Homo sapiens: one gene and its partners. The protein of the gene in region 1 purifies or fractionates together with the protein of each later gene. This does not show direct contact. Each region holds a gene or a part of one and is shown in the gene's direction. Other genes may lie near its edges.

The links. Proteins that work in one complex are often made in the same cells at the same time.
Region 2: the proteins of SLC5A6 (region 1) and SLC25A46 purify together in Homo sapiens (affinity purification with mass spectrometry; one large-scale study listed by BioGRID and IntAct). This does not show direct contact.
Region 3: the proteins of SLC5A6 (region 1) and PDXDC1 purify together in Homo sapiens (affinity purification with mass spectrometry; one large-scale study listed by BioGRID and IntAct). This does not show direct contact.
Region 4: the proteins of SLC5A6 (region 1) and G6PC3 purify together in Homo sapiens (affinity purification with mass spectrometry; one large-scale study listed by BioGRID and IntAct). This does not show direct contact.

What each region holds. Positions count from the first base shown.
Region 1 is NC_000002.12:27,204,861-27,210,144, reverse strand, and holds part of SLC5A6 (sodium-dependent multivitamin transporter), read left to right. Parts: intron 1-2,354; 5' UTR 2,355-2,494; coding exon 2,495-2,887; intron 2,888-3,202; coding exon 3,203-3,268; intron 3,269-3,610; coding exon 3,611-3,662; intron 3,663-4,051; coding exon 4,052-4,119; intron 4,120-4,640; coding exon 4,641-4,795; intron 4,796-5,213; coding exon 5,214-5,284. UniProt on the Homo sapiens protein: Sodium-dependent multivitamin transporter that mediates the electrogenic transport of pantothenate, biotin, lipoate and iodide.
Region 2 is NC_000005.10:110,741,237-110,745,894, forward strand, and holds part of SLC25A46 (mitochondrial outer membrane protein SLC25A46), read left to right. Parts: intron 1-810; coding exon 811-853; intron 854-2,493; coding exon 2,494-2,551; intron 2,552-4,658. UniProt on the Homo sapiens protein: Transmembrane protein of the mitochondrial outer membrane that controls mitochondrial organization.
Region 3 is NC_000016.10:15,035,659-15,039,220, forward strand, and holds the end of PDXDC1 (pyridoxal-dependent decarboxylase domain-containing protein 1), read left to right. Parts: intron 1-292; coding exon of another isoform or gene 293-357; coding exon 358-617; 3' UTR 618-2,372; coding exon of another isoform or gene 2,373-2,552; 3' UTR 2,553-2,674; downstream 2,675-3,562. Other genes in the region: NTAN1 (protein N-terminal asparagine amidohydrolase), read right to left, coding at 2,373-2,552, 2,916-3,029.
Region 4 is NC_000017.11:44,072,965-44,077,232, forward strand, and holds the end of G6PC3 (glucose-6-phosphatase 3), read left to right. Parts: intron 1-1,195; coding exon 1,196-1,302; intron 1,303-1,715; coding exon 1,716-1,806; intron 1,807-2,004; coding exon 2,005-2,123; intron 2,124-2,345; coding exon 2,346-2,487; intron 2,488-2,715; coding exon 2,716-3,079; 3' UTR 3,080-3,380; downstream 3,381-4,268. UniProt on the Homo sapiens protein: Hydrolyzes glucose-6-phosphate to glucose in the endoplasmic reticulum. May form with the glucose-6-phosphate transporter (SLC37A4/G6PT) a ubiquitously expressed complex responsible for glucose production through glycogenolysis and gluconeogenesis.

The sequences.
Region 1 (5,284 bases):
TGTACCTCCGTGTCCCATACTGGGACTTTCCTTCCTGTCTCTGGCCACCTACCTCTCTAAACCACTAACCCTATAGTTAGTTCTTTGTTCTGTGTTCTTTGCACACAGGAGACCTCTTCTTTCCTCTTACTCCCCAGTAGTTCCCATCATCTCTATCATAGCAGTAAAAACTTGCCAAAGACGAATGAGAAAACTCAGGGTGTTGCAATGTGCAAAGGCCCAGGGCATGTTTAGGTTAAACCAGAGTTTAAGCCTGTTGGGAATCTTGTAGAACATGTGATCCAAGAGTTGCCAGGTCTGATTTTCCCTCTTTATTGGCCCCAAGAGGTTCAGAGTTCAGGTTTAGTCTGCATGAGGCCATATCTTGCCAGCCAGCCAGTGTCTGCCCAAGAACACACTGTGGGAGAGCGGAAAGGCAGCCTAATCTTTCTCCTAGTGGGCAAAAGCAGAAGACATAGTTTATGTTAGTCTGTCTCTTGATTAGTTGAAATCTAAACTATGTCCTGTGAATGACTGACTGCAACACTCTGCTCCTGTCCTGGTTCTGGGAATAGTGAGGACAGGGCCCTTGCTGAACACCTGTCATAGCTGCAGACAGCACTGTTTCTCTCTCTCTTGTTTTGTATCATGCTGCATAACCTTGAGCAAGTTATTTAATCTCTCAGTTTTCTTGTGTTAACTGGAGAGTATTCGTGTCTTAATCTGAGACATGCTGTTTTGAAAATGTTAGCTTCATTATGTATTATTACTAATGTTTATAAAGCACCTCACACACTGCTGGGTTACATAGCAGGTGTTCAGCAAATGTTAACTGTCGTCATGTTAGGCTGTGTAACTACATGGCATTCTCTGGTGTTTTTTCCTCATACCAATAAGTACCCCAGAGGATTGCCTTTGAAGACAATATGATACGCTTGGAGAACAGACAGGGTGGATGGTGAATCCCTAGACCTGGGTTCTAATTTATGCTCTGACAATAGTCGGCTCTGTGCTTTTGGAAAGGTCACTTGAACCATCTGAGCCTTAGCGTGTTTATCTGTGAAATCGTCAGTGGTGGGGGGTTGGTTGTAATAGTGGTGTCCAAAGATTTAAGATTTTAAATATTATGATCCCTTCCCTCTTTCTCTGAGGATTGTGGTGTATTCTTGGGGGATTAACATTTCTTGTGCAGGAGTTAGAAAATCAACTTTCAACTTTCCCATGTTTTCAGTTCCTTCTTTCCAACTCCCTCCCGCACAGAGTGCCAAGAGTACTTTAGGCTGAAAGGCTAATCCATCTAGGAATGCTGTTGAATATGAGCTCCCTCTTCCCTGTTCTGGAGCCTCTAGGGCTGAGTTGGAGTTTGGGGGCCATAGGGTGATAGGGCCATTTGGAACACAGCCATTGGTTCCCTGAAGGGGCCAGAACAAATGACTGCTGAGCTTCACCCCACCCCCAATTCCTGATCTCTCACCTCAGCTACTCATAGAGCCAGATCCTCAGCTCTGCAGCTCCAGGCAACTCTGCCTCAGAACAGGGATTGCTTCTCCAGGTAGGTGTCTGTCCCCAGCAGGATACGACCACTCTCTTTGGCTGGTCCCTTTGCCTCTCAGCTCCGTGACTGGGTTGCTTCTCTCCAGAATGGAGAATCGTCATTCTGAAACCCTGACTCCAGCATGGTGCCCTCTCACCTTTCCCCTCTCACTTTTGAATCCAGCCGCTCTTCCTGCGTCTGCTGTTGACTGTGATGTTGCAGGTAGAGGGGCTGAGAGGTGGGTGGCAGCACTTATCTAGTGGTGTTGGGGAGAACCTTAAGAAAGGGGTTGGCCTGGGGACGCCTGAAATGGAGTCTGTGGCTGCCACAGAGGCAGTCTCACTGATGATCAGTTAGAAGGGTGACACTGGGGATCACAGGAGGCGAGGGCCGAGGCCAGGGGCAGTAGGGGAAGCCCTGCTGCCATTAGTCTCCATGCTGTGTTTCCTGCTGGGCTGTGGCGCCAGGCTGGGCTCTGCTGGCTTAGTGTATTGTAGTGACTGGGTCTGTGCCTTCAAGTGGGGCTGGGAAATTCTGCTAAGAAACTTAGGCTAGAGTTTATTTTTCTTTTGGTACTCGGGTGGAGACCTAAGAAGGTTGTTGAATTTCACAGCTGTGCATACTCAAAGGTCCTGGCCAAGTTATATTGTCTCCTGGCTGTCGCACTCTGATGCTTCTCCCTCACTTATGTCCCCTACCAAACCCATACCAGGGCCTCTAGACCTTGAAGGGCTACCACTATGCTGGCTGGTCCACTTCTGATGGCATGCGATGTACAAGGCCCAAGGGTGAATGGCTACCAAGGCCAGATAGGCCTCACTAAGAGCTAATTCCTTTGCAGCTCACCCTGGACAGTATCACTCCGTGGAGGAAGACTGTGAGACTGTGGCTGGAAGCCAGATTGTAGCCACACATCCGCCCCTGCCCTACCCCAGAGCCCTGGAGCAGCAACTGGCTGCAGATCACAGACACAGTGAGGATATGAGTGTAGGGGTGAGCACCTCAGCCCCTCTTTCCCCAACCTCGGGCACAAGCGTGGGCATGTCTACCTTCTCCATCATGGACTATGTGGTGTTCGTCCTGCTGCTGGTTCTCTCTCTTGCCATTGGGCTCTACCATGCTTGTCGTGGCTGGGGCCGGCATACTGTTGGTGAGCTGCTGATGGCGGACCGCAAAATGGGCTGCCTTCCGGTGGCACTGTCCCTGCTGGCCACCTTCCAGTCAGCCGTGGCCATCCTGGGTGTGCCGTCAGAGATCTACCGATTTGGGACCCAATATTGGTTCCTGGGCTGCTGCTACTTTCTGGGGCTGCTGATACCTGCACACATCTTCATCCCCGTTTTCTACCGCCTGCATCTCACCAGTGCCTATGAGGTGAGCAGGGACAGAAGGGAGAAGTGCGTGGGACACGGGTTGGGGTGGAGAGGAGGGACAGGCACATAGGAAGGACCTGGGACCCTAGACCTCCTCCACCTAATGAGAGGGACAGAAAACTCATTGTGTGTTTATAATTCTTTCTCAGTGATGTTAGGTATAGGGGCAGGATTGGAGAGGAGGGTGCTATGCCGAGTAGGACTCAGAGTGGGTATGGGTTGGATATTCCCTCATGTTCCTGAGCATCTTGAGGGAATTTGTCTGTGAGTTGTCGGGGTGAAGTCAGGAGAAAAATCTTTTTTTCTGTATACCCAGTACCTGGAGCTTCGATTCAATAAAACTGTGCGAGTGTGTGGAACTGTGACCTTCATCTTTCAGATGGTAAGCAGAATGAGGATAGAAACCGAGCCTAGGGCATGTTGGGGGACCTGAACGCAAGCATGCTGAGGGAATTGGAGTCTCCCCTGCTCTCAGATTGGCAGGATTGAAATTCCTGCTAGAGGTTAGCATCTGTGAGGACCCCAGAGGCATCCTGCTGCCCATGCCTTCCAATTCCAGCACAGATACTGTGGTGGCAGCAAGCCAGAATTTGAGAGGAGAAGGAAGAGGGAAGTGAGCCTAGGTGAGGGGAAGCCATGGGCATATTGGCGCTGAGGCCCATCTTTCTTCCTCTCTCTTCCCACCATTCTCCGGCCCCCATCACATTTTTTCCACATGCAACAGGTGATCTACATGGGAGTTGTGCTCTATGCTCCGTCATTGGCTCTCAATGCAGGTGAGGAGTCACACAGCCCCTGGCTTTCAGCCGTGGTAGGTTAGGAAAGCACCTTTGGGAGAGGCAGATGGAGGAGCGTATGTGGAAAAGAACCTGACCTTGAATGGGGAATTAATTCACCGCTTGGGCCCTTGGGTGGGTCTCTACCAGAGGAAGGCTTGGTCCACCTCAATTGACAGCTAGTAACATGTTACCATGCCCTATCTGAACTGGTTAGTCAATATCTTTTGGTGGAGCTCTGCAAACATTTTTCTCCGTTGTGGTGAATGATTTATTTCATTGTTAATGACCAATGCTTTATCTCTGTGGCATGACGTGATTGCCCTACCAGGGCTTCTCCCCTGGGGAACCCTTTTCCAGGGATAAGAATGTGGCTTCTATGCTTACAGTGACTGGCTTTGATCTGTGGCTGTCCGTGCTGGCCCTGGGCATTGTCTGTACCGTCTATACAGCTCTGGTAAGTGCAGTAAGCCGTGGTGTGGGGAGGGGAAGGGATGAAGTAAGGAGGGGACATGGGAAGAGAAGGAAAAGAAGAGATAAGCTGAGAATATAGATGAGGAGAATAGGTGAAATTCTGGGGTGGTAAGATTTATGATAGGATTTAGCAGTGGGGATGGTATATGAAGGTAGAGGATGGGATGGGAATGATGTCAACAGGGTCACAGCAATTACATGCCTAATGGCAGGAGAGTCCCCTCACTGGTAGTATGTTCTTAGGGTGGATGGTTTCAGGAGTGTCCAAGGGAGAGAATATAGTCATGGGTTCTTAGTTTCTGTTTCTGGTTGGGTCAGTAAAGCCCCTTCGTCATCCCTCTTTTATACATATCACCAGAGACAGAAACTAAAAACTGGCTTCAGGCTGCAAAAAGCCTAAAACAAAACAAAACAAAACAAAATGGAGCAACAACAAAATAAGGCAGGTTGGACAAGCTGGGTTTAGAAGGCCTCTGTGGCAGGTTTGCTGTGCTTTCCTTGCAGGGTGGGCTGAAGGCCGTCATCTGGACAGATGTGTTCCAGACACTGGTCATGTTCCTCGGGCAGCTGGCAGTTATCATTGTGGGGTCAGCCAAGGTGGGCGGCTTGGGGCGTGTGTGGGCCGTGGCTTCCCAGCACGGCCGCATCTCTGGGTTTGAGTAAGTATACCCCTACTCCTGGCTGGGGTCTGCAGTGCCTGGGCGCTGAGCCCATCCTAGAGGCTGGTCTTGGCTATAGTAAGCAGAAGGTAAACTGGGAAGCCTGAGGTGTAACAGCAGACAGTGGGAAACTGGTCCTGCAGAGATGGAGGGTGATTACAGGTGCCCGGCTAGTGTTTATAGAGAGTCAGGACATTACCTGGGATGAGTACCTGGAATGAGCCTGGGGTGGAAGAATGGAGCCTCCCTCTAACTGGCTGTGCTGTCTCTCGAGTGCACCCAGCTTCTTGCTTTCAGTGTCCCCCTTGGCCCTAGCAGTGGTGTCTCTCCTTTCCTGTCCACTGACTCCTGTTGCCAAGAGGGCAGGAAGGCTGTGTCTCTCAGGCTTTGCACAATGACTGGGTGGTGTCTGTTACAGGCTGGATCCAGACCCCTTTGTGCGGCACACCTTCTGGACCTTGGCCTTCGGGGGTGTCTTCATGATGCTCT
Region 2 (4,658 bases), on another chromosome or scaffold:
AGAAGAAAGGCTTTTCTCTTTTGACATATGCATAGGAATGTTCCCAGCTGTGAACTTTTCCAGTAACATAACAGACATACCATCTGTAGTAGCATTTAGGTATCCAGTAACCTACTCCAATTAATTAAACAGCTAGCCTCAAACTATTTAAAACTTGAAGAGATGGGGGAGAGCTGTATTTACCCATTTTGGTTATCCCTAAGTACCCTTTCAAGTTAATAATTTAGAGGTGCTTTACTTGTAGTTATTGGTTTAATAAAGTGCTCTCCGTCAGTAACAGTGAATAACTAGTTTTACAGCATAAGAGGTAAAGTCGCAGGTGGAATATCAGCTGCGGCCAACCATGGAAAATTTTTTATTTGATTGGAATCAGAAGCTGAAAACTGGTAGCCCTTAGGTTCTGTCCGGATATTTGTTTCATTAGGCCAAGACAATGTGTTAACAGTTTTTGAAATAGTTGTCCAGGACTTTAAAATTGGAAGCTTTTATATAAAATGAGAATATCTTTTTTTGAAAAAATTACAACTTCAAAACCCTGGGCCCACACTCTAATGTGGCAACAATGAATTGGAGTGAAAGCGTAATTGTGCTTTAAACACTCTACACCTTGCAATTTGCCACAGACCCCAGCAGAGTCCTTCATTCATTTAAATTATTTACCTGGCCCCTATCAGAATTTGACTTTGAGGTTTAAATGAACAGCAGGTTAATAAAATAAATTTTTTAAAATTGTTTTGAGACTAAACCTAAATTGTCAGTAATTGGTTATCAGTAATCTTATTTTTTTATTTCTATTTTTTTTTACTTTAGAACAGCTGAATAGATTTGCTGGATTTGGTATTGGACTTGCAAGGTAATGTTTTATCTAAAGACGTTTACAGCTTTTATTTATTGAATTTAGAGTTTTTCTTTAATTTACAATATTAAATGATTATTATTGCTTCCTTTAGGTTGTTTCTTTGAAGCAGCAGCTTAAATTTTGAATAATATTTTGCAGAAAAAAAATGACCATTATTTAAAATATATAATTTGATAGTTTTTCCAGTAAGGATAGACTAGTCATCCAATTTTATAAACACAAAGTAATTTTGTAATGAGTATTGTAACTGTTTTCATGGGTCTATCCAAAAAATAAAATGAAGTGTAATCTTATCTCTCTCCCATCAAAATAATAATTTAGAATGGGGTTCATGAAGATCAAATGGCTCTGCTGATAAGAACTTTTTTCATAGGACATTTTCTGAAAGAAAAATTACATGGCATTTAATGATGCCATGTAACTGACGTGTCATTTCCCACATCAAACATACAGTGATCTAGTTTCATTTTATACCGTAGATATTAATATTGTGTATTATATATTGTTTCCCTTACTTACCTGTTTGCAGATCTGGTTTTCATTCTTTTCATGGGTCTATCCAAAGAATAAAATGAAATGTAATCTGTCTGTCTCCCATCAAAAAAGTAATTGTGCATGGAGGCTTCTTTCTAAACACTCTAATGCTTACAAGATATTTAGCAACATAGCATCTAGATTTTGTTCATAATCAGCGTTTGGTGATAGCATTACTTTTTTTTATATCTAACGATCATTTTAAGAAAATCCTTTAGTCTTGATTATTGTGATCCTTAGTGAATACCATTTTCAAAAATATTGGAATTGCACAAAGCTTACATTTCATGCCATAATGATCATTATTTTAAACATTTTAACGAAGAAAAACACCTTATTTGCATAATTAAACCCGAGGGTGTTAATGTCAATATAAATAAAATCTGTGTTTTCCATTCTGCTGGAGTTGTTTTTTGCTTCAATATTTATACTTAAAGCTTTGATTCATTTGATAGACTATTATTACATATAAATATGTGTGCACATGTATGTATATGTCACTCTGAGACCTGAAACCCACAGCTGTAATTGTTTTGTGGGGCACATTCTCAAAATAAATATTTGATACATAAATATTAGTCAATTAACATGGTCATTAAGAATCTTATAATTTAAGATTTATACTTAAATTTATACTTAAACCTTATAATTTAAGTGCACCAAAACCAAACATTTTTAGAATGGGGTTCATGAAGATCAAATGACTCTGCTGATAGGAATTCTGTTATTAGGACATTTTCTGAAAGAAATAATTTGCAGCATTAAATGCCATTTAATTGATGTGCCATTTCCCACATTAAACATTCAGAGATCTAGTTTCATCTTATACTATAGACATTAATATTATGTATTATGTATTGTTTCCCTTATTTACTAGTATGCAGATCTGGTTTTCATTCTTTTCATATTGAATTTCGTTATGGGTAGAATCATTTGCAAACATTTCTAGACATTTTTAAAGATCTATTTAATTTGTTTAAGAATGGAAAACATAAAATAATGCATGATTCTTCAGGCAAGAATAATTTCAGAAAGATACCTGTTGTAAATTTAATTTATCTCTATGTAGACATACATATACATAAATTATTTTTATATAGTCTCTTTACAGAAAATGTATTGGCACATCCTTGCATTGTTCTACGCCGCCAATGTCAGGTAAATGTAATTTCTGTGATCTTTTGAAGCAATACTTCTGACCCTAATATGAAGGGCAGAACTCACATAAATGACATGAAACCAGGTAATTGTTACTTCATGTGAAATGTTCCAAACTTTTTGGTCTCAAAACCTCTTTAAAGTCTTAAAAAAATATTGAGGATCCTAAATAACTTTGGTTTATGTTGGTCATATCTATTGATAGTTACCATTTCAGAAATTAAAATTGGGAAAATTTCAATGCATCTATATAATTCATTAAAATAATAACACCTGTTAGTAAGATAATATGTTTTTATGAAAGTAACTATTTTGCATTTTTGCAAATATCTTTAATATCTGACATAATAGGAGAGAGCCAGTTTCTCTCGTATGCTTCTGCAGTCAATCTGTTGCATCACGTGGTTTTTGAAAGAAGCAAGGAAGTTTAGTCTTGTACACATGTATAGTTGAAAGCAGGAGAGGAGTATATTATATTCTTTTGAGATAATTGTGGGTATTCTTTGCAATTGCACCAAAACTCACTGTGTCGCAGTTTCTTAAAGGTTATTTGCAATGTGAAATCAGAAATCATTTTAGTGAACTTTTTATACTTTGTTACATTAAAAAATCCATTTAACTATACTGCATCTTGAATAGATATTTTTACTTATGCCTGATTCCATGTAATTGTGCATAAGTTATTTGAAAAATATTGACCAATTGAGTTACATAGATCTTCCTGTTGTTAAAACATTTGATTATAAAATATCAAAAAATCATCTTCATTAAAAATACTACTGATCTCACTAGAAAAGTCTATAAGTATTGTCAGCTCTTGACGATGCATATAGATTTTCCAAAATTCTGAGTTTTAGTTGAAAATTCAAACTTATCATTGACAGTAAATACTGTTATTTATTTTTGTTTTAATCAACAATCTCACTTTGTTTATTTTTTAAAATATGTCTGTCCTGAAAGTGAATAGGTATAGTCCGTCAATGAGTTTTTCTAAGTAAAAATGATGTTCCGTGAAAAAAGTGGCTAGTTTAGCTTGCAGTTCTATCATACAAGTGCTTTCCTCATGACAGCAATCTTACTTCCTTATGTAACACACAGGATATTAATTAGAAAGAGGATGTGTACTCAAAGGTCAAGGATTCATAAAATTAACATTTTGTTACTTCATTGTCAAGGATATTACTATATGAAGGTTGCTTTTTTCTCTCTATGGGTAAATGAGGTGAAAAATTACTGTAAGTACGAAAATACAGTTTGATGGTGCTGCCTCAATTTGTGCTAATGAGCTGGGAGTTTTACCTACCATTGCTTTTGTACCATTAGTGAAAATGTCAAGACAGTGAAAAAAGGAAATTATATCTTAGTAATCACTAGGAAAATAATTTTGAACTTGTCAAGCCCCTGAAAGGGTAATGGGGCCCTCAGGAGTCAGTGGACCCCACTTGCAAACTCTGTTATAACCCACTTTTTTTTTTTGTTTGTTTGAGACGGAGTCTCGCTCTGTTGCCCAAACTGGAGTGCAGTGGCATGATCTCGGCTCACTGCAAACTCCGCCTCCTGGGTTCACGCCATTCTCCTGCCTCAGCCTCCCGAGTAGCTGGGACTACAGGAGCCCGCCACCGTGCCCAGCTAATTTTTTGTATTTTTAGTAGAGACGGGGTTTCATCGTGTTAGCCAGGATGGTCTCGATCTCCTGACCTCATGATCCGCCCGCCTCAGCCTCCCAAAGTGGTGGGATTACAGGTGTGAGCCACTGCGCCCGTCCTGTTATAACCCACTTTCTCTGTAAAGTAATGCTTCCTGTATTTGTTAGCTGTTAGAGTTCAAAACAGTATAAATCATTATAAATTAATCTGTTCATGCTTAGCACTGAAAAGTATGTATACAGAAATACCATTAAAGTAGCATTGACTGTATGTGCCACAGAACAGTGTATTTCAGATATATATTTTACATTGTAGTAATATTAACATGGAGATCCAATGGATACATTACATATAAGTAACAAATATATTATTTTTAAATGTTTTATGAAATAATACCATTAGAATGTAATACATTCTAATATTTTATTGTTTCACATAATAAATATTGTTTTGACACTCCC
Region 3 (3,562 bases), on another chromosome or scaffold:
GACCAACTACTACCATCTCTTTAACCATCTTGGTAGCCGTGGGATTCAGCCTTGAAGAAATCCCACGGTAGTGCGCTAAGGGGAAGTTGGGGTCTTGAAAGATGACATTGTCACTGTGGTGTTTACCCTCCTGGGCGTTTCCTAATGAAGATGACCTTAGAGTTCCCCGGCCTGGGGAGCATGTTGGTGTCAAGCTAGCAGCTCTCGGTTTTCTCATCTCCTAAAACACCTCAGAGCCAGTAAAGGTTTCTGCTGAAGCTGTGTTGTGAAATAAAGCAATTATCTGTTGCAGAGACAGCCTGTGTTGCAGAAGTATCCTCACTGAGTTTCAGCGCAGTCTGTCTGCCCTTTCTGTAGGCCAGAAGCCTTTTAAAAGGTCCCTGCGAGGTTCAGATGCTTTGAGTGAGACCAGCTCAGTCAGTCACATTGAAGACTTAGAAAAGGTGGAGCGCCTATCCAGTGGGCCGGAGCAGATCACCCTCGAGGCCAGCAGCACTGAGGGACACCCAGGGGCTCCCAGCCCTCAGCACACCGACCAGACCGAGGCCTTCCAGAAAGGGGTCCCACACCCAGAAGATGACCACTCACAGGTAGAAGGACCGGAGAGCTTAAGATGAGACTCATTGTGTGGTTTGAGACTGTACTGAGTATTGTTTCAGGGAAGATGAAGTTCTATTGGAAATGTGAACTGTGCCACATACTAATATAAATTACTGTTGTTTGTGCTTCACTGGGATTTTGGCACAAATATGTGCCTGAAAGGTAGGCTTTCTAGGAGGGGAGTCAGCTTGTCTAACTTCATGTACATGTAGAACCACGTTTGCTGTCCTACTACGACTTTTCCCTAAGTTACCATAAACACATTTTATTCACAAAAAACACTTCGAATTTCAAGTGTCTACCAGTAGCACCCTTGCTCTTTCTAAACATAAGCCTAAGTATATGAGGTTGCCCGTGGCAACTTTTTGGTAAAACAGCTTTTCATTAGCACTCTCCAGGTTCTCTGCAACACTTCACAGAGGCGAGACTGGCTGTATCCTTTGCTGTCGGTCTTTAGTACGATCAAGTTGCAATATACAGTGGGACTGCTAGACTTGAAGGAGAGCAGTGATTGTGGGATTGTAAATAAGAGCATCAGAAGCCCTCCCCAGCTACTGCTCTTCGTGGAGACTTAGTAAGGACTGTGTCTACTTGAGCTGTGGCAAGGCTGCTGTCTGGGACTGTCCTCTGCCACAAGGCCATTTCTCCCATTATATACCGTTTGTAAAGAGAAACTGTAAAGTCTCCTCCTGACCATATATTTTTAAATACTGGCAAAGCTTTTAAAATTGGCACACAAGTACAGACTGTGCTCATTTCTGTTTAGTATCTGAAAACCTGATAGATGCTACCCTTAAGAGCTTGCTCTTCCGTGTGCTACGTAGCACCCACCTGGTTAAAATCTGAAAACAAGTACCCCTTTGACCTGTCTCCCACTGAAGCTTCTACTGCCCTGGCAGCTCGCCTGGGCCCAACTCAGAAACAGGAGCCAGCAGAGCACTCTCTCACGCTGATCCAGCCGGGCACCCTGCTTAAGTCAGTAGAAGCTCGCTGGCACTGCCCGTTCCTACTTTTCCGAAGTACTGCGTCACTTTGTCGTAAGTAATGGCCCCTGTGCCTTCTTAATCCAGCAGTCAAGCTTTTGGGAGACCTGAAAATGGGAAAATTCACACTGGGTTTCTGGACTGTAGTATTGGAAGCCTTAGTTATAGTATATTAAGCCTATAATTATACTCTGATTTGATGGGATTTTTGACATTTACACTTGTCAAAATGCAGGGGGTTTTTTTTGGTGCAGATGATTAAACAGTCTTCCCTATTTGGTGCAATGAAGTATAGCAGATAAAATGGGGGAGGGGTAAATTATCACCTTCAAGAAAATTACATGTTTTTATATATATTTGGAATTGTTAAATTGGTTTTGCTGAAACATTTCACCCTTGAGATATTATTTGAATGTTGGTTTCAATAAAGGTTCTTGAAATTGTTACCAGTGAATTCAGTTTATAAATCTTATTACAAAAGACTTACCCACGTACCTGAAATAGCTGCCGATAGACCAGTGAGAGGTAGGTTCTCCTCTGCCCGTTATTACCGACCAAAAAAAAAACTGGACATCAATTTTTTAGTAAACCAAAAAATAAGTCTCAACAAATGCCTTTGCCAAAATAAGGTTTTATTTTGAAAGTCATTTGATGAAAGTCATTTGAAAGACACTGAGGAGGGAAGGAGGCCTAAGACCCAACAGATGTAGGATCCAGATCTGGATTCGTGCCAGCCCCACCAATGGTCTGTCAGGCCAAGAAGGTGCTTTCTTTGGTAATTCATGTTTTTTAACTTCCTGGAGAAGAGATCTTTTCCCACAAGCCATCTTCATTTTTTTTGTAGAGTAGGGCTTTATTTCCAGAAAACAGTGTGTGAGCTGGAGATGGGTGTTTTTTTAAAAACATCAAGGTAGATCTAATATGTTCAACAAAGTGGGGTGGCTCAGCCAGAGGCGAAGTGGAAAGATTCTGAAAACACAAGATGGTGGGCATTAGAGAAGCCAACCTTACTGTCCCCTGCTGTGATAAAGATGTCAAAGTATCTTTGTTCTTGGACACAAATATATATAATAAAATACGTTAAGAAATGAGGTGGCCTGAATTAGTAAGAAAAAAGTTGATTGCTTACTGCTTTACCCACACACATTTCCATCTAGGACTTGACATATCCCCATTTGATATACAAGTTAAATGGGGTCTGTCAATGGCATCCAAAAAGTTACTACCCGCCAAAGGGAAAGCAGCTATGACCTGGTCTAAACCCTTTTTTTCTTACAGATGGGGAAACCAGGGTGCAGAGATTTAAGACTTACCCAGCCTGTAAACTCTCACCTCTAGTATTTGCTTGTCATCTTGGTGCAACCAGAAATCCACATGTGGAAATGGTGTCCAGGAGTACGGTCCTATACGAAGTTGTTCTGTCTCTGCATCATAAATGCTAATCATCTAAAAAAGAACGTGTCAAGGATAGAATTTCAGGAATGTCACCCACTTTTCAAACCCTCCCAGTAACGCAAGCTCCAGTGTAGTCCTTTCATGCATTTATCTGCCTAAGCTTCTTAAAACCTGTCTCAAATAACAAAAGCTGCCAGCTACTGAACACGTCCAGTGTGTCTGCTTCTGCACACTGTGGGGCACGCACGACTGCTGAGCGCCAACAGCAGTCCCACAGGACGAGGGTGTTTTTTCCCATTTGGGGTGAAAACTTGAGGCTCAGAGAAACAAGGCCCATTTCCCAGGTTACGTGTCCAGTAAGCCTCAGAGCTGGACCTCAAACCCAGGCGCTTCTGACTAAAGTCTGTGTTCCCATTGCCTCATTATTTATACCCCAAACAACTGATCACCTTGCAATTTAAAAGCATACAGTGCCTGCTGCCCCATCAAAAGAAGAAGCTAATTTGCCAAATGATCCAGTCCCTGAATTCCCAAATTTGCCAATGGCAGCCTCAGCTTACCTAGCAATATTCACTTTGGTAACT
Region 4 (4,268 bases), on another chromosome or scaffold:
GTTGTATATATACTAGGCTCAGTTTTCAGAGGGGAGAGGCAAGTGCCTTCTGTATATCCCTCCCCAGCACGTGGCTTCCTGCCAGCATCTCTTTTGCTATCCCATCTTTTCTCTTTCTGGCCACAGCAGCCTCTTCATTGTGTGGTTCCCAGGGCCCAGCCAAGCACTTGCTAGACCAGAGGATTTTGACATTTTTTTGTCCTCCTTATTCTTTCTCAGCCTTCTCTGTCCATTTCCCACCCCCATTTTCAGACCTGAGAGGCTCACCTAAATAATTTAGGTGTGGATAATTCAGGCTGTAACTGGGGACATGGAGGCAGGGGTAGCAGGAGGGTTAGTGAGGGCCTGGAGGAGAGAGCTGGGTCCTGGACTCTCTGTGGATGATAAGAGCTGGCCTTGCAGTGAGAGGGGGTAGAGTGGGACGGCTGAGTATCTCAGAGCACACACACGGCTTACCACAATCTCTTGCCTCTGTATCAGTTTTATTTTTTATTTTATTCACTTTTTCTTTTTTTGAGACAGGATCTCACTCCATCACCAGGCTGGAGTACAATGGCACAATCACAGCTCACTGCAGCCTCAACCTCCTGGGCTCAAGTGATCCTTCCCACTTCAGCCTCTGGAGTAGCAGGGACTACAGGCACACCCCAAGATGCCTGGCTAATTTTTGTATTTTTTGTAGAGATGGGGTTTTGTCATGTTGCCCAGGCTATTCTCGAACTCCTGGGCTCAAGTGATCTGCCCGCCCAGCCTCCCAAGTAGCTGAGACTATAGGTGTGCACCACCACTTCCAGCTAATTTTTTGTTTTTGTTGAATCTGGGTCTTGCTATGTTGCCCAGGCTGGTCATGAACTCCTGGCTTCAAGTGATCCTCCAGCTAAGGCCTCCCAAAGTACTGGGATTACAGTCATGAGCCACTGTACCTGGCCCCAGACTAGTTTTTAAAAATAGTGTTTCCACAGGCTGAGGGTTAGGAAAAAAAAAAGAAAAGAAATAGTGTGCTTTCTTTCTCCTGTTCTAAGGTAGAAAACCATGGCAAGGTATCCATGGATACCTTGAGAGCAGTGGACAGAATCGTAGTCCCTTTTTGACTTCACCCCTCAGGCCCTCCAGAGTACTCTGTGTCCTGCCCGCCTTGTACCCCCCCTGGCTGTGTGTGCATGTGGAAAGTCATCTTGCATCTGTTCTCTTCCAGGTTTCTTTTTGGAGACAGGCCCTTTTGGTGGGTCCATGAGTCTGGTTACTACAGCCAGGCTCCAGCCCAGGTTCACCAGTTCCCCTCTTCTTGTGAGACTGGTCCAGGTGGGAAGCCTCAAACATTCTCCCTTTCCCAATGTGGTTAGGGTTCGGGTGAACATTTCAGAGTACTTTTCAGCCTGGGTGGCCCAACCAAAGGACCAGCCTCTCAATTACTGGCGCAGAGAACAAAAGAACCCCAGGGAGACCAAGCTGAGTTATGGGAGGAGGGCACTCATGCTATGTACCAGCTGCCCACCTTGTATAGAGGACAGCCAAGAGACACAGATCAGGACAGAAACCTGAGCACAGTGACCTCAAGTGGCAGTAAAAAGGCCTCAGAGCAGAGCGAGTTATGAATCAGTGCTGGGGAAAAGCTCTTCTCAGCCAGGAAAGGCAGCTGTATTATTGAGGCATCACCAGGGGCCCCGGGGTTCTGCCTCCATCTTCTCACCACGAGCTTCTGGATTTGCTGGCAGGCAGCCCTTCTGGACACTGCATGATCACAGGAGCAGCCCTCTGGCCCATAATGACGGCCCTGTCTTCGCAGGTGGCCACTCGGGCCCGCAGGTATACCCTTGGCATTGCCCACCATTGGGAGCAGGGGTGATGGCACCCTGTACCTAATAGACACAGCAGCATGGCAGCCTGGGAGCTGGAGTTTTGGGGACCCTAGGTTGTGTGGTTCAACCATGGAGTACCTGGGTGCTGCAGGAGGCCAAGCTGTGTATGGACACGCTCTGAGCTCCTTGCCTCTCTTCTTTCTAGCCGCTGGGTAAGGGTGATGCCTAGCCTGGCTTATTGCACCTTCCTTTTGGCGGTTGGCTTGTCGCGAATCTTCATCTTAGCACATTTCCCTCACCAGGTGCTGGCTGGCCTAATAACTGGTGAGCAACTGGGGCAACGGGGTGGACTGAGAGGATGCCTTTGGCAGTGGGAGGATCAGTCTAGGATCTTCCCATCGCTCCCAGCTTCTGTAGAGCCCACCCCAGAGGCCCCCCGTTATGTCTCAGTTTATTCTCTTGCCAAGCTGCACTGCAGCTGGGGGTCGGGGTGGGGAGGGTCATATCCCCAGACTCCTTGAAGCTGTTGTCACTCCACTCTCCTAGGCGCTGTCCTGGGCTGGCTGATGACTCCCCGAGTGCCTATGGAGCGGGAGCTAAGCTTCTATGGGTTGACTGCACTGGCCCTCATGCTAGGCACCAGCCTCATCTATTGGACCCTCTTTACACTGGGCCTGGATCTTTCTTGGTAAGTCTCGCTTTGAAGCCTGGGCAGGCTGGGCCCTGTCCTATCTCGCCTGCACCTAGCCTGGTGTGTCTCTGGTTCATTATAGCTAAAAAAGGACACATTACCTATTCACATAGACCCTCACAGGCACAAAACAGAACATGGGAGTGGGCCCCAAGGGCAGATGGCCAAGAGCCAGTGGCCTTCTATGTTCCAGCCTCTCCTGGCAAGAACTCTTCTTCCCCACAGGTCCATCAGCCTAGCCTTCAAGTGGTGTGAGCGGCCTGAGTGGATACACGTGGATAGCCGGCCCTTTGCCTCCCTGAGCCGTGACTCAGGGGCTGCCCTGGGCCTGGGCATTGCCTTGCACTCTCCCTGCTATGCCCAGGTGCGTCGGGCACAGCTGGGAAATGGCCAGAAGATAGCCTGCCTTGTGCTGGCCATGGGGCTGCTGGGCCCCCTGGACTGGCTGGGCCACCCCCCTCAGATCAGCCTCTTCTACATTTTCAATTTCCTCAAGTACACCCTCTGGCCATGCCTAGTCCTGGCCCTCGTGCCCTGGGCAGTGCACATGTTCAGTGCCCAGGAAGCACCGCCCATCCACTCTTCCTGACTTCTTGTGTGCCTCCCTTTCCTTTCCCTCCCACAAAGCCAACACTCTGTGACCACCACACTCCAGGAGGCAGCCCCATCCCCTTCCAGCCCCTAAGTAGGCCCTCCCCTCCCTAAATCTGCTTCCGCACCACCTGGTCTTAGCCCCAAAGATGGGCCTTCTCTCTCCCAGATAAGTTGGTCCTCCCTCTGCCTTTCCTCTCAAGCCCCCAAAGAGCAAAGGCAACAGCAAGACCAGCGGGTTCTTGCAACACTGTGAGGGGCAGCCAGGGCGGCCCCAATAAAGCCCTTGAATACTTTGAGATTCCTTTCTTGCCTATGCGCACATCTCCATGGGCCTTGCCTGTGTGTGCACAAGTGGAACCTTTGCCAGGCTGCTCCAGTAGTCTCTGTGCCATCTCCAGCCCTGTTTCCAGGGGCAGAGAGGCAGGAAAGGAGAGGGCTGTAAACTCAGGTGAGACCTCTCAGCCCTGGGTCCCCTGCCTCATCACTGCCTAGGCCACATGAGAGGTCCCATGAGATGCTGTGACTATATTCGGTATAACCCTGTCTTTTCACTTACAGGACAGATCTTGCGCCCCAACCTCCAGTTTCCTAAATCGGCTTCTAGTCCAGGGGCTGGAGAAAAGAGTAGTGTGTTTGGCTAGGAAGGAGGATGAGAACCTCTACTCCATTTGGGAGCCCAGAGAATAGAGACATTGGCCCCAGAAGGCACTGCCAGAAACAAGTTTATTTACACAAGGACACACAGTGTAACGGGTTACAAAATACTTAACTGAAATCCATATCCAGGGAGACAAAGCAAGGAGTGGGTTTACATGAGAACCAGACCAGCCACAGGGAGAGAGTGGGTAAGGGGCCGGGAGCCTGGGGCTCAGCACAGAGAGGCCTAGTACACTGAGCCTGGCCCCATCCCCATCCCCCAGGAGGATCTAAAACAAACACACAAGCACACTATGAACCGATGGTGCTGGGACTCCTGCCCCTCCCCTGGCTCCCTCAATCCTGCTCAGGCCCCCATAGGATAATAAATATGTAAACAGATTGGTGGGGCCCTGGAGATAGAAGGAGAGAAAGTATATGTGGTACTGGGGAGGAGGAGGAAGGAAGAGTCAGCCCCCTAGGAGCCACTTCCCATCTTTGGTTTCCTACAGGCTGGATGGCATCCCCTGGAAGCCTTGTAGGCCCAC